2 separate regions of the Homo sapiens genome follow, and region 1 is linked to region 2. The links come from fine-mapping of genetic effects on gene expression. A gene starts in region 2. The other region holds a variant in brackets. All regions are shown on one strand. Distances are from middle to middle.

The links.
Region 1: its variant is fine-mapped to the expression of KDM5C in whole blood (TOPMed, PIP above 0.99).

Annotation. Positions count from the first base shown.
Region 1 is chrX:53,136,942-53,145,275 of GRCh38, reverse strand. It overlaps a transcript of KANTR not described here and the pseudogene ACTG1P10. Among named protein-coding and RNA genes, the nearest start is that of KANTR, 47 kb to the right of the region's middle. The variant C/T (reference allele first, on the strand shown) is at 5,108.
Region 2 is chrX:53,220,898-53,229,231 of GRCh38, reverse strand. KDM5C (lysine demethylase 5C) reads left to right here and starts at 4,025. Exons shown (of 26, transcript NM_004187.5): 1 at 4,025-4,492; 2 at 8,316-8,334. The coding sequence starts at 4,343. It also overlaps a transcript of IQSEC2 not described here. RefSeq lists enhancers at 3,704-3,753, 3,631-3,925, 3,764-4,143, 4,384-4,483.

The DNA of each region.
Region 1 (8,334 bases), 84 kb after region 2:
CATCTGTCACCCCTTTCTTTGACTAGGAAAGGGAATTCCCTGACCCCTTGTGCTTCCCGAGTGAGGCAATGCCTCGCCCTGCTTTGGCTCACGCTCAGTGCACTGTACCCACTGTCCTGCACCCACTGTCAGACACTCCCCAGTGAGATGAACCTGGTACCTCAGTTGGAAGTTCAGAAATCACCCGTCTTCTGCATCGCTCATGCTGGGAGCTGCAGACTGGAGCTGTTCCTATTCGGCCATCTTGGCTCCACCCCAAATTCACCTATAGATCTATAGAATTTATAGATCTTGAAATCTATAAATTCACCTTACTGTACAATATGGATTAAAAGTACTTGAGACACAGAACGACTAAGGCAGCTGCCTGGAGACTTGGATCCACTAAGTGGCTGAACTGAGATTTACATGGGAAAGATGAAAATTACATGAAATAAATTGTGTAAGGGACACTGGCTGATCATATGCAAAACGGTCTACTTATTTCAGAATAAGAACAGTATTCTTTAAAAAACACCCAGGTGTAGTAAATATTCTCTGGTGGTTAATAAAAAGTCTAAAAATTCACAAAGTATTCCCTACACTCATGTATGGACTTTTTTTTTTCTTTTCTTTACAGTGGTGCAATCTAAGCTGACTGCGACCTCCGCCTCTCAGGTTCAAGCCACTCTCCTGCCTCAGCCTCCCAAGTAGCTGGGATTATAGGCATGTACCACCATGCCCGGCTAATTTTTGTATTTTTAGGAGAGACGGGGTTTCACCATGTTGGCCAGGTTGGTCTCAAACTCCTGACCTCTGGTGATCCACTTGCCTCAGCCTCCCAAAGTGCTGGGATTACAAGCGTGAGCCACCATGCCCAGCCTAGACAGATTTTTTGTTTTTGAGACAGGGTCTGGTTCTACTGCCAGGCTGGAGTGCAGTGGCACAATCTCGGCTCACTGCAATCTCTGCCTCCTAAGCTCAGGCAATTCTCATGCCTCAGCCTCCTGGGTAGCTGGGACTACAGGCACGCACCACCATGCTTGGCTGATTTTTGAATTTTTAGTAGAAATGGGGTTTCGCCATGTTTCCCAAGCTGGTCTCGAACTCCTGGCCTCAACTAATCCACCCTCCTCGGCCTCATAAAGTGCTAGGATTACAGGCGTAGCCACCCAGCCAAGGAATCAATTTAATTAAGTAATTCTATTGTTATATGTTTTCCTATTTTTTTCTAAAAGAAAATAATTAAGAATAAATTTCCATCAAAAATCAGTATTTGGCTAATTGTTAACTTCAAAATCCAGTAATACAGTCACTTGCTGCCACCAGCCCCCACACCGTGTCTTCCCATGGCTCCACCGCCCTGCTCTTCCACAGGTTGCAATGGAAATAGAGATCGCCGCGCTCATCATTGACAATGGCTCTGGCATGTGCAAAGCTGGCTTTGCTGGGGATGGATGGCCCCTGAGCTGTGTTCCCCTCCATCATCAGGTGACCCCGGCACCAGGGTGTGATGGTGGGCATGGGCCAGAAGGACTCCTACATGGGCCATGAGGCCCAGAGCAAGCACGACATCCTGACCCTGAAGTACCCTATCGAGCATGGCATCATCACCATCTGGGATGACATGGAGAAGATCTGGCACCACACCTTCTACAACGAGCTGTGCATGACCCCAGAGAAGCACCCGGTGCTGTTGGCCGAGGCCCCTCGAACCCCAAGGCCAACAGAGAAAAGATGACTCAGATCATGTTTGAGACCTTCAACACCCCAGCCATGTATGTGGCCATCCAGGCCGTGTTGTCCCTCTAAGCCTCTGGGCGCATCACTGGCACTGTCATGGACTCTGGAGACAGGGCCACCTACATGGTACCCATCTACGAGGGCCATGCCCTCCCACCACGCCATCCTGCGTCTGGACCTGGCTGGCCAGGACCTGACCAACTACCTCATGAAGATCCTCACCAAGCTTCACCATCACGGCCAAGCAGGAGATTGTGCGCGACATCAACGAGAAGGTGTGCTACATCGCCCTGGACTTCGAGCAGGAGATGGCCACTGCCACATCCTCCTCCTCCCTGGAGAAGAGCTATGAGCTGCCTGATGGCCAGGTCAGGTCATCACCATCGGCAACAAGTGGTTCTGGTGTCTGCAGGTGCTGTTCCAGCCTTCCTTCTTGGGCATGGAATCCTGCGGCATCCACAAGACCACCTTCAACTCCATCATGAAGTGTGACGTGGACATCCGCAAAGACCTGTACGCCAACACAGTGCTGTCCAGCAGCACCACCATGTGCCCTGGCATCACCACGCTGGCATCCAGCACCATGAAGATCAAGTTCATCATGCCCCCAGAGCACAAGTACTCGGTGTGGATTGGTGGTTCCATCCTGGCCTCACTGTCCACCTTCCAGCAGATGTGGATTAGCAATTAGGTATGTGGCCCCTCCATCATCCACTGCAAATGCCTCTAAATGGACTGCAAGCATGTGGGTTAGCCATCAGGTATGTATGATGAGTCTGGCCCCTCCATTGTCTACCGCAAATGCCTCTAAATGGACTGCGAGCAGATGTGCAGCATTTGTTGCATGGGTTAATTCAGCAGTATAAATTTGCCCCTGGCAAATGCATACACCTCATGCTAGCCTCACAAAACTGGAATAAGCCTTCAAAAAGAAATTTGTGGCCAGAAGTGGTGGCTCACGCCTATAATCCCAGCACTTTGGGAGGCCGAGACGGGTGGATCACAAGGTCAGGAGTTTGAGACCGGCCTGGCCAACATGCTGAAACCCCGTCTCTACTAAAAATACAAAAATTAGCCAGGCATGGTGGCATTCGCCTATAATCCCAGCTACTGGGGAGGCTGAGGCAGGAGAATCACTTGAACCTGGGAGGCAGAGGTTGTGGTGAGCCGAGATTGCACCACTGCACTCCAGCCTGGGCAACAGGGCGAGACTACGTCTCAAAAAAAAAAAAAAAAACATACACAGAAAGTTGTCCTTGAAGCTTGTATCTGATATCAGCACTGGATTGTAGACTTGTTGCTGATTTTGACTTTCTATTCAAGCTATATTCAAGTTAACTGTTCCCCTTGGTATCTGTTTAATACCCTGTACATGTCTCTGATTTCAACCTTTAGTACATGTGGCTTGGGCACTTTGTGGCTGAGGTAAGAACGTGCTTGTGGAAGACAAGTCTGTGGCTTGGTGAGTATGCGTGGTCAGCAGTCTCCAATATGTGCAGGGTATTAATGTGTCATCAGGGCTGAGTGTTCTGGGATTTCTCTAGAGGCTGGCAAGGGCTCCTGAACCAGTTGTTTCTGTCCTGCCGGTCTGTCAGAGTTGGAAAGTCCAAGCCATAGGACCCAGTTTCCTTTCTTAGCTGATGTTTTCCTGCCAGAACACCGTGGGCTGTTACTTGCCTTGAGTTGGAAGCGGTTTGGATTTACACCTGTAAATATATTCATCCTTTTAATTTATGTAAGGTTTTTTTCTACATAATTCTAAATTCTTTAAAGAGATGACAACAAATTTTGGTTTTCTACCGTCATGTGAGAACATTAGGCCCCAGCAACACGTCATTGTGTAAGGAAAAATAAAAGTGCTGCCGTTAAAAAAAAATCCAATAATAGAGAGTGGGAGAAGGAGCAACTGGAGAGGGAGAGTGAGAGCAAGAAAGAATGAGGGACAGAGAGAAAGAAAAAAGGAAAGAGGAAGGGAGGGAGGGAAGGTAAAACAATGGGGGAATAACAACTAAGAAAATGAAATCAGTTATGTTCCTTTAAAGCAGCACCTAATAATAGATGCTGATTCTGATAATAAAAGATATAGCTTCCATGTTACCAGAAAAAATTGTGAAAAGAGCAGATTGAATCTAATAAAGTATTTAAATACTACACATATGCACACCAACAAAGTATCATGATGAGCAGGAGGAAGGCAAAAATCAGGTTAAGTCGAATGATTCCCACAGAAGGTCAGAGAAGTGCTGTATACTGCAGCCCCCACACAGCCCCTCTCTGGTAGTAGGAGCCATGCACTAGATCTTGCACTGGACCAAGACGTTCAAAGAGGGAACTGTGTGAAACACCACACTGTTCAAATATAATTTCAAAATAATTTTATTTTACTTATTTTGAGATGGAGTTTCGCTTTTGTTGCCCAGGCTAGAGTGCAATGGCACGATCTCGGCTCACTGCAACCTCTGGCTCCTGGGTTCGAGTGATTCTCCTGCCTCAGCTTCCTGAGTAGCTAGGATTATAGGCATGCACTACCACATCTGGCTAATTTCGTATTTTTAGTAGAGACGGGGCTTCATCATGTTGGTCAGGCTGGTCTCGAACTCCTAACCTCAAGTGATCCACCTGCCTCAGCCTCCCAAAGCACTGGGATTACAGGCGTGAGCCACCACGCCTGGCCTTCAAAATAATTTTAAACTAGAAAAACACAGTTACAAATGTTAGAGATACTTTAAAAACATTTATCATTATTTTAAAAATTATAACTATTGATAACTCTCACCCCTGGAACTGAAATGCAGCACTGTCAGGTACCTGGGCACACAGACTAGGAATCTCTACTTTAATGAGAGAAGGCTTGCACTTTTTTTGCCCTTGGAAACTTCTAATTTGGAGGGACATACATTTTGTTTTTGGCCTTTTTGTGCTTAATGTGTGATGAACACCCTTGCATATGGCCCCTTATATATCTGTGTACTTCCCTGGGATTTATTGTACCCAGGAACAGAATTGTTGGGTCATACAGTAAATGCATATACTTTTTTTTTTTTTTTTTTTTTGAGACAGAGTCTCACTCCGTTACCCAGGCTGGAGGGCAGTAGTGTGATCTTGGCTCACTGCAACCTCTGCCTCCTGGGTTCAAGCGATTCTCCTGCCTCAGCCTCCTGAGTAGCTGGGATTACAGAAGTCCACCACCACATCCAGCTAAGTTTTGCATTTTTGGTAGGGACGGGGTTTCGCCATGATGGCCAGGCTGGTCTGGAACTCCTGAGTGACCTCAGGTGCTCCACTTGCCTCGGCCTTCCAAAGTGCTGGGATTGCAGGCGTGAGCCACCGCACCTGGCCCAGTAAATGCATATCTAATTTGACAAGGTACTTCCAGACAGCTCTT[C/T]GGAACAGCTGCCCTAGTCCACACTCCCATCAGCCATGCAGGAGGGTTTGTAGGTCCTTACACCCCCACCGCCACTTGGCATTATCCTGCTTCTTAAATTTGTCGGGCTGATAAACTGGTATCTCACTGTTATTTTAATTCCTCATACTTGCAATGATCTTGAACACCTCATCATATACTGCTGGCTTTTCAAATTTCTTCCTCTGCAAATTGACTATTGTATGCTTTGGCTAATTTTCTATTGGCGTTGCTGTCTTCTTTTTCTTTCTTCCTTCTTCTTTTGTCCTTCCCCTTCCTCCTCCCCCTTCCTCCTGCCTCCTCCTCCTTCTTTTGTTTTGTTTTTAAAAACAGGGTCTTGCTTGTCACCCAGGCTGCAGTGCAGTGGCATGACCACAGCTCACTGTAACCTCAAACTACTGGGCTCATGTGATCCTCCCACCTTAGCCTCCCAAAGTAGCTAGGATGACTGGCATGTGCCACCACAACCAGGTAATTTAAAAAAAAATTATTTTTTCTAGAGACAGGGTCATGTTGTATTGTCTGGCTGGTCTCAAACTCCTGGCCTCAAGCAATCCTCCTGCTTCAGCCTCCCAAAGTACTGGGATTACAGGTATAAATCACTACACCCAACCTCTCTTCTTGATGATTCACAGGAAATCTTTTTATATTCTAGGTATCAAATCCCTTGTTGGTTTATGCATTGCAAATATCCTCTCCCAATCTGCACATTATCTCTTACTTTTGTCCATAGTGTCTTTCATTGAGCACAAATCCTTAATTTTGCTATAATCCAATCATCTCTTCAGCATATGGATTATAGTCTTGAAGTTTTGTCCAAGCCCCTAGGTCACAGACATCTCCCTACAATTTCTATTAACATTACAGTTTTATTTTCACATTTAGGTCCTCAATCTACCTAGAATTCCTTTTTTTTTTTTTTTTTTTTTTGAGACGGAGTCTCGCTCTGTCACCCAGGCTGGAGAGCAGTGGCACCATCTTGGCTCACTGCAACCTCTGCCTTCCGAGTTCAAGCGATTCTTCTGCCTCAGCCTCCTGAGTAGCTGGGACTACAGGCACACACCACCACACCCGGCTAATTTTTTGTATTTTTAGTAGACATGGTGTTTCACCATGTCTGGTTGACCAGGCCAGTCTTGAACTCCTGACCTCAAGTGATCCGCCCACCACAACCTCCCAAAGCGCTGAGATTACAGGCGTTGAGACACTGTGCCTGGCCCCTAGAATCCATTTTTGTACATGTCATGAGGAAGGGATCCAGTTTTATTGTTCTCTGTCATGAGCCAGTTTTCTCAACACCTTTAACTAAGCAACTGTCCTTTCTCCCTTGATTTGTTATACAATAGGTTTTTATATACAGGTGTCTGTATCTATGCTGTTGTATTGGTCTACTTGTCTGTTTCTGTGCCAATGACACATTGTTTATATTTCTTTTTTTTTTTTTTAAGACAGAATTTCGCTCTTGTTGCCCAAGCTGGAGTGCAATGGCGCAATCTTAGCTCACCGCAACCTCCACCTCCTGGGTTCAAGCGATTCTCCTGCCTCAGCCTCCCGAGGAGCTGGGATTACAGGCATGCGCCACCACACCCAGCTAATTTTGTACTTTTAATACAGGCATGTGCCACCACGCCCAGCTAATTCTGTATTTTTAGTAGAGATGGGGTTTCTCCATGTTGGTCAGGCTGGTCTTGAACTCTCGACCTCAGGTGATCCACCCGCCTCAGCCTCCCAAAGTGCTGGGATTACAGGCGTGAACCACAGCGCCCAGCCTATATTTCTAAATTCAAAGAAACAAAGGCCGGGCGTGGTGACTCGCGCCTGTTGGGAGGCTGAGGCGGGCGGATCACCTGAGGTCGGGATTTCAAGACCAGCCTGACCAACGTGGAGAAACCTTGTCTCTACTAAAAATACAAAATTAGCTGTGCGTCGTGGCGCATGCCTGTAATCCCAGCTACTCGGGAGGCTGAGGCAGGAGAATCACTTGAACCTGGGAGGCGGAGGTTGTGGTTAGCCGAGATCACGCTGTTGAACTAAAGCCTGGGCAACAAGAGTGAAACTCCATCTCAAAAAAATAAATAAATAAAAATAAATTCAAAGAAACAAGAAAGAAATAAGGCAGAAATAAATAAAATAGAGAACAAAAGATAACAGTGAAAATTAAGCAAACCAAAGCAGATTCTTTGAAAAGACCAATAAAAGAGACAGACTTCTGACCAGTGATCAAGAAAAAAACAAAAAGAAAATTAAAAAACCAAGATATAGGCCAGGCACGGTGGCGAAACTCTGTCAAAACAAAAAAACAAAAAAACAAAACAAAAAACAAGATATAGAATGATAAGGGGGGCAATAACTAGGGAAAAACAGATTTTTTTTTTTTTTTTGAGATGGAGTTTCGCTCTTGTTGCCCAGGCTGGAGTGCAATGGCACGATCTCAGCTCACCGCAACCTCCGCCTCCAGGGTTCAAGTGATTCTCCTGCCTCAGCCTCCCGAGTAGCTGGGATTACAGGCATGTGCCACCATGTCTGGCTAATTTTGTATTTTTTTTTTAGTAGAGACGGGCTTTCTCCATGTTGGTTAGGCTGGTCTCGAACTCCCAGCCTCGGGTGATCTGCTCGCCTCAGCCTCCCAAAGTGCCGGGATTACAGGCGTGAGCCACTGATCAGCCTCCCAAAGTGCTGGGATTACAGGCGTGAGCCACTGAGCCTGACCAGAAAAATAGATTTTTTAACAGTGAAGAATTATGAATGACATGCCAATGAATTAAAAAACCTAGATGAAAATAAATGATACATTCTTAGAAAAATACACCATGCTAAAAATGGCACAAATAGAAAGGCCTTGAATAGTCCAGTAAGTATTAAAGAAGTAAAAATGGTAGTCAAAGAACTGTTCTCTCTCAAAACCCCAGTGGGTTTTGTAGGTGAGCTGCAGCAAACCTTCAAGGTATAGTTAATTCCAATCATATGCACAATAACAAAAGTAAAACCTATTTATTCCACTTTTTGAGGTTAGTATAACCTAAATTATAAAACTGGATGGGAGAACCCAAGAAAAGAAAATCCTAGGGCCACTTAGAATGTTATGGTTCAACATCAACAGTATACTAATGTGGCCAGGTGCAGTGGCTCATGTTTATAATCCCAACAATTTGGAAGGCTGAAGCAGGAGGATTGCTGGAGCCCAGGAGTTTGAGACCAGCCTGGGCAAC
Region 2 (8,334 bases):
GTGTCCTGTGGCACATCTCCATCTTTTTCTGAGCCCTTCCAAGGAGCCCCGGTTCTTTTTAGTAGAGAATGACATTTAGAAACCAAGATTTGGGCACTAGGTGTTACAGCAATATTTTAAGAGCTTGCTCTTTTATTTTGCAAAGGTTTGAGCATCCATTGATGATTTCTAGCTCCATCATTCCTTCTATATAATTTAGAATTCTACTTTCCCTTTTCTCTCACTTTATTTACTTATATCAATGTGGAGTCATGGATTTTTATTTTAACCAGTGAGTTGTAATCCACTACTATCATAATTCATTTTGAATTAACATTACTTTGGATAAATCATTTTATTGTTATGTATATGTATAAGCACATACTATACATCTATATTTCTATACTAGACATCGATATTTCTCTGTCTCTGTCTAATAAACCATGAGTTCACACAGATACCTTGAGGAGGCTCTTTTAAGAGTCCAGGCTAGAGACAGTAAAAGGCTCACAGGAGGAGTGGAAGATGGCAAGGAGGAGGGGATGGATTCTAGAGCTATTTAGGAATCAGAACCAACAGCTTAAACCTACTTCAGAACTGGAAGAGATCATATTTTACAAACCAAAAAAAGTGAGACACAAAGTCAGTGTCAGCCCAGTTGATCCACAAAACATGAATGGGGTGCGTGTGGTTTTGAGCCCAGACGAGCCTTCCAGTCACTGCTCTGCACCAACTCCATGTCAGACCCTGTCTCCCGGGTGGATGGGTGAGGCCAAGCCAGCCCCCAGCCTGGAGTGAGTTTCCTGATGCATCCCAATTCTTAAGTCCCCAGCGTCTAGACTCCGGTTGTCCCCCAGCAAGACCCATGGCTTGGGGAACAAACCCATTTCCTGAATGCCTTACTACATGGGGAGCACCATCTGAGACTCTTACAGGCAGAATTGTACGGCAGTCAGACAGACCTGGGTTTGAGTTCTGGTCCTGCCACTTACTAGCCATGTGACTTGAGTAAGTTTACACTTCCCTGAGCTTCAGTTTCCTCATCTGTAGGATGGGGATAACAATACCTACTTCATAGCACCTGGCCCTTGATGAATGGCAGTCATCATTATCTCTAATCCTCCTAACAACACTGTGAGGAAGGGATTATTTAGCTTCATTATACAAAGGAGAAAATCAAGGCTCAGGAAGATGAGGTACTTGGCAGATCTCAGTGGGTGCATGTCAGCTCCAGGAAAGTAGAGACTACATCTGTCTTGGTCACCATTATATTCCCAGTGCCCAGAAAATTTGCTGGTGCATAGTAGAAATTTAATAAATATTTGTAAACGAATAAATTCTATCTCATTGGCTTCAAAGACTACATAATTTCTATTTAATCTTCTAGGACGGGTGTGTCTGGGCTAAAGGACCTCAAAGAAGGCTGTAGGAAGACTGTGCAGAGCTGAGACCCAAAATCTGGCCTCCTGATTCCTGATTCATGCTCTTTGTACTTCCTTGAGCCTCTAGATGGAAAGGCTGAACTTCCTTCGGCCTAAGATCTACCGTATTCTCCCACCTTCTAGATTCTCCTCACCCTTCTCTGGCCAGGCCTCTGCCTCCTTTTCATCTGTTTCTTCCACGCACCACCACCACTACCACCATCACGGTCACAGCCACGGTGGCCTGGGGGTGCTGCCCGATGGGCAGTCCAAGCTCCAGGCCCTGCATGCCCCATATTGCCAAGGACTGGGCCCTGCCCCACCACTCTACCTCCCACCCCAGCAGCTCCCTTTTCCCTCACCTCCTCCACTCCTGGTGAGGGCAAACGACAGGAAGAGCATTTGACCAGAGTCAGCAACTTCCTGTGTATCATTGGGCAAGTTGTTTAATCTTTCTGGAACTTGGTTCCTCATCTACAGACTGGGTAAATTCACCTACATCTTTCTGAAGACTGTTGCAAAGATTAAGGGAAATAATTGGTATGAACTAGCCATGTAGGCAATTAGATGCTTATCCATGTGAGAGGCTAGTGATATTACTGTGATTAGCATCACTTTGCCTAGTTTTCCTGCTTCCTGTCCAGACAGCTGTTCAGTTGGATCATCCACCTGTGTTTCTGGTGGAGAGGGGCTGAGGTTTCCCCTGACACCTAGAAAACTAGAAAGATGTCACTTAATATCTGTGTCACTTGGGACAAGTCTCCACACGAGCCAAGTGGGGATAAAGATCTTGAACATTCAAGGTAATATAAGGATTCAGGTGATAAAAAAAAAAATACAAAAGCACTAGCACAGTGTCTGACACAAAGGAGATTCTTAATGAGTTTTGGCATATTGGTTGTTGACTCTCAGAAATAAAAATAACAGCTACCAGATACTGAGGGCCTGCTATGTGCCAAGTACACAACAATTCTGCAAGGTATGTATTATCCCCATTTCAGTTACAGAAGTTGGGACTTGTTCAAGGTTACAAACTAGAAAATGGCAGAGCTGGTGGGACTGCAAGGCATGACTCTTTTGAGCCCAGGGCATGAGCTCCTTCCTACCTGTGTGCCCTGTTCCCTCAGCCAGGATGTCCTTAGCTCAGTCCTGAAGTAGGCAGGATGGACCTAATTGGCACAGTATCTGATTAGGAACAGTTAACTGCACGAAGGTATGACACTCCCTATCTGCCTCGAGCTTACAGTGGATGTTTAATATGTTAAACAGGAAATGTTTGCAAAAAGTATTCATATTTTTCAGTCAATATATACTAAGGACATTTATTCATTTTTCTTTTGTTTACTCAACATTCATTTACTGCTTAACATGCCAAGTGCTAAGGATGTATAAGGCCACATGGTCCCTGCCCTTAAGGAATTCATAGTCTGATGGGGGAAAACAAAATTACTTAATCAGCATGTACGCAAGTACTCAAATATTTGCACAGTAGGTGTTCAAACTATATGCAGTAGGTCCACAGCTGATGAATGACACAGATGATCCTCCAATCAGTAGATGCCTGATGTATATGTACAAAGTACTGGTTTGATGATACTCATTCAAAGTACTGTAGTTGCAATGAACCTATTCAGAAACTGCTCAAGGAACATGCACACGATAGGACTAAATGTACATACAGTTGGTACCAAATGCACAGGGGCTATACACAATAAATACAATAAAAGTACACGGATGTTTGGTAAGTGCACTGTAGGCTCACAAATGGGCAAACAGGTGTTTTACACAGTTGACACTGGATAAATACGCCGTTGCTAAACATCCAATAGTTAAAGTATACATACACACAGGCTTATTTTGTAGGAGTATATGCCACAAATGTGTACATGGTAAAAGTGAATACAGAACAGTTGAAAGCGTTCATTAAAATGCTGACTCCCAGTGACTTTTGGGGGGTAAGAATCGAAACCCCATCTCTCTACCTGTAACCTTGGATGAAATAAAGATTTCCTTCCTTTACTTGGGACTCAGAATCCTAAAAATCCATAATCCCCGGGGAGTGAGCAGCTTCCTGCCTTCCTTATTTCAAAGCCCCAGAGGTGTCAGTGTCTAGAGCTGGAGCCTAGTACATCTCCCCCCATCCCGCGGGCCAGCATAAGGGGTCCTTTGCAATCAGGCTCCCAGAGCCGCCTTCCGCGGCCCATACCGTTAAGACCAGGGAGAAGGGACAGAGAACACTGGTGCGGGGCTAGCGACCTGGTTGAGGTCTGCGGGGGAGTGCCGGTTTGACTCCACCACCCACGGACACCAGCTCCTCTTCCGGTCTCCATAACGCGCATGCGCATCACTGGCCTTTAAACGTGCACCGCCGGTCCATCCGGAAAGACGATCCGGCAAACTAATTACAATCTTGTTCCTCCGCCGTTGCAATGAACTATTTTCTCTCAGTCCGGGGTGGTACTTTTGAGTAACCCCTTCCAAATAGAAACCCATACCAGCCTATTTAGCTCGGTCTCCACTATATGAAGGTTTCCTAGGGCTTGGTGTGACGCAACGTATACGAGGCTCGGAAGGACACCCCGCGGAAGGATCCGGTTTGTTGTGGTGTGGGGAGGGGAGACGCTGACAAACCAAGATGGCGGCGGCGGCGCTGAAGGCCGCGGCGTTTGGGAGGTAACTGTGGTGGCGAAGGCTGCGGTAGTGGGGAGGCAACCACACAGTTTGGAAGAAACGGAGCGGGACGAAGAGGCGGTAGCAGTAGAGTCAGCCTGAGACTCTCAGAGCACGACGGCCACACGCCCCCTTAGGCCCTCGGCGGGCGGCGGCTGCCCCGCTTAGGGCCTAGCCTCCGAGCATTGCCTCGGCTTCAAACAGCGGCGGCGCCATGAGTCCTTAAGGGCGGTCCAAGCCTCCCGATCCCTGGCCCAGACCTCGGGCCCACCATGGAGCCGGGGTCCGACGATTTCCTACCGCCACCGGAGTGCCCGGTGTTCGAGCCTAGCTGGGCCGAGTTCCGAGACCCTCTTGGCTACATCGCGAAAATCAGGCCCATCGCAGAGAAATCGGGCATTTGCAAGATCCGCCCACCCGCGGTAAGCCCCGGGGCCGGTTTTCGCCGGCGGCGAGACGGAATGAAGCAGTAGGATAGCCAGCGGCGAAGTCTGGGGCGGAGGGCAGCTCGAGGTGGGGAGAGGGGGTGGCTGGGACCGTTGTGGTTGCGGCGCGGATCGGAAAAAGGGTGTTGGGCCAGGGGTCCTCTCGTGGTGTGAGGCCCACAGGTGACCTGGAGTCAGAGATCCACCCCCACCCCGGCCCTTCAGAATCACTCCGGGTTTAAGACAGGGATTCCTAGTGGGCCGGAGGGAGTTCACAGAGAGGCACCCCGCACATCTCTTAGCCCGGGCCACCTAGGTCGAGGCTGTAAAAATAAGACGTTTCTCCAATCTGTTGTCATCACTTCCTTTAAGGCAGGCAGCATAGTATAGTATTAATAGAAAGATCGCAGTCCTGAAGGGAGACAGACTTGAGTTCAAAACTCCACTTTGAAGCTGAGCAGCTGTGTGACCTTGGGAAAGTAGAAGTAATCTCTCTGAGCCCGTGAAATGGATCCCAGAAATGGTTATTTAGAGGATTGAATTAAACTAGGTAGCGTCTGTATGTAGTACGCACTAGATAAGTGGTAATTATTGTGACTGTGAGGGTGTTTGATGTGGTCATTGGTTTATTCCTATGTAGGTTGACTCATATTTACTCATACCTTGCCAGGCCAATTCATCTATGATAATATCCTGGCCTGCTGGACCAGTCAGGAAATCAGTCTCACAGGGATTGCTCTGTCTCCCTTGAGGTGGGTTCAGGGAATTGTCCTCTTCTTTTCCTCGTTGAAGGCAATGTCAAGGCCTTTTCTGCACATCATCCCGCAGACTTGACTTCCTATGGAGATGTTTGGACCGGTCAGCTTGGTGGTGGGGTGTGAGTCCTTCTCAGAAGATTTCTACTCTCCTCTGGTCCAGGATGTAGGAGATCCCAGAGGATAGGGCACTCTTGGGCCCGCAGAACAGAATGGAGCCATGGAATTCTGTCCCTTTTGGAACATGATTGCCAGGGGTCAGCAACAAAGGCCATAGCTTTCCTCCTAGGCCTGGCTTCAGGCTAGAAGTCTCCCAAGGGCTAGGGCAAGCTGCTGCCTTGCTGATATGGTGGAAAAGTGATGATAATGTTCAGTGATCAGTTGGGATTCCAAGGGCAGAAATTGAGCTTTGCTGGAAAAGGGTGTTTTTGAGTGGGTGTCTCCTGGCTGAAATGGAATAGGAAGCTTCATTCCCACCTGAGGAGGGCACCACAGGCCTCCTTATCCAACTTGGTGCTTTCTGGTGCTCAGCCACAGATCTAGGATGGTTTCAGATAGATCCTCTAGGAGGTGTTGGGTAAGCGAATTTCTTCCTTCTTGGAGTCTGGCCACAGATTTCTGAGGTATCCTTGTCCATGGTGAGGGAGTGGCAGTGGGTAGAGGGTCAGGAAGGCTAGTGGAAGGGAGAGGCAGGAGTCCTGGGCAGCCTCAAGGAGGCACTCCCTGAAGTGGTTGGGCAAGCCTGTGGGAAAAAGAGGCATAGCTGACGTAGGGGGTAGTTGAGGCCTGAATTCCTTTTTTCTATCTTGGACTGACTTAGGCAGGCTGGCCTTGTGTAGGTGTTGTTACCCTGCTTTGGGGCATCAGGAAGGGGAAGAGTGACATGTCCCAGGTGTGCATGGCCAGCAGGAGGCCGTCCTTTTCACTGCTCAACAGTGTGCTTCTCTCTAATCCAGGATACCTGGCTCTCTGGTTTGGTTTTGTTTTTTCCTTCTCTATGGCAGCTCCTAGGCCACCTTTAGGCAGCTGGCCTTCTTCTGGTTGAAGTTTGAAGTACTCGCTCAAGTGATGCTTGGGCCCAGGGTGGGAACCTGTATATGGGTGGGTACCTGGGAATTGGAGGTTTGCTGGAGGAAGGATGGTTTGGGGCCTGAATTGCTGGGCAGGTGACTGCTACGCTTGGGAAAGATGGGTGGGAGGAGAGTGTGGGTACCCTGAGTAGACCCAGTGGAGTTTGGAAGGATCTTGCTTTCTTCATCAGGTAGCCAGCCTTTTTTTTATCACCACATCCCAGTAATACCAACATACATTTGGCATACAGTAGTCTGGAGATGAAGGCAGGCGGTTTGCAGGGCCTTCCCAGGTATCTGTTGCATCCATGGCTCCTGCCGTAGCATTCCAGGGCTGCCATTTCCTGTCAGGTGCTTGATGTTGCACTGATTGTCTAGAACTTGATTCAGCAGGAAAGAAGGGTGCCCGGAGTTTTGGGTTTGAGCACCTTTTTAGCTGGGTTACCTGTGCTGAGGGGAGTGCCCTATCCTGATGAGAGGCAAGAGGGCATGGGGAGCTTGTCTGGATTTGAGCCATACCATTTTGGCCTGCCTGTTTTTTTTTTTTTTTGTCCCTGCTTACTGAGCCCCAGATGTTTGCCACCTGCTTTGGCTGGTAGGGGCAGGGGAGTGTGGTCTGTGTATGCATGCAAAATATGAGTCCTCTAGCCCATTTTCTAAAAGTGTGTGTGCAGAAGAGGTCAACAGTTTTTCTTCTCTTTCACTGTCTCTCCCCCCCGCCCACGTGTATGCATGTATGTATGAACATTGATGTCTGGTGTAGTGCAAAGGCCTTGGATCAGAGGTCAGAAGACGTGGGTTCTTGGCCCCACCACTAACTCAGCATGTAATTTTGGAAATTTCACTTTTTTTCTCTGAGCCTCACTTTCCCCATTTATAAAATGAGAACATTGGTTTAGGTTACTTTAGGTTGATTTCACCACCCCAGCAGGAGCCAGGGCTCTGGGAAGGAGAGGTCTGCATAGGAGGTTGGAAAGGGGTGTTGGAGAGGGGGTTCTTCACAGCTGACCTTTGGGCAGGACACAGCAAGCTCCAACTTGGCAGAGCAGAGTGTCTCCCACTTTCATGATCTTTCCCTGACTTCCCTCCCCAAATCCTCCCATTCTTTGCCACCACAGTCAGGCATCCCAGCACTTACCCCCACCCCCTGGGGCTTCCTCCCCTGCCTCTTCCTGTACCAGGCAGGTGTATGAGAGAGGATCTACAGGAAGCCTTCCAGACTGGGTGAGTGATACACATACTTGCTCCCTGTTCCTTGCTCTTCCCTGCAGTGTCTATCTCAGGCCCTTTAAACTGAGAGAACAAACATTAAAGGCCCAAACCTTTACGTCCTGCCACAATCGGACCTGAGCTACCCTGCATGTGTATTGTGAGGTGTGGTCAGCCTTAGATGTCAGGTCATAACGGTGACTCCTTTGAATAACATTTTCATTTGAAAACTAGTTTTAATTTTCCATATTGGTCTGGCAAGGAAGCCAGGGCTAGAGTTCATATTCCCACCTCACAGATGAGAAAACAGGTTCAGAAAGCTAAAATCTCATAGCTAGTAAGTAGCGGATCTAGAACATGAACCCATATCTTCTGACTCTAGATCCTGTGTGCTTTCCAGTACTCCCAGGCCTGTGTGTCCTACAGCACGTGCCTAGGGGATAAGGAATTAATGTGGGTGTGGAGAAGGTTTAGGGTCAACAAAACAGAGGCTCCATCTCTTAATTTCTTGAAATCCTGGCACTGTACTGTTGGGTGGGACTCAGGAGAAGTTTCCTAGGGCATGTGCATGGGGCCTTGGGTGCAGACTTGAGGGGCTGCTAGACTCTTGTGAGTTCTGGGGGGAGGTGGGGGTGGGTGGTTGGGTAGGATGTTTGCAGGTTAAAGGGTCTGGAGTGGCTAGAGGTTTGGGAAGGTGCCAGTGGGATTCCGAGCTGCTTTTGGTGACTTCCGGTCTTACACTATGCTGAGATAACTCAAGTCCCTTTCCCCTCTCTACCCTCTCAGGACTGGCAGCCACCCTTTG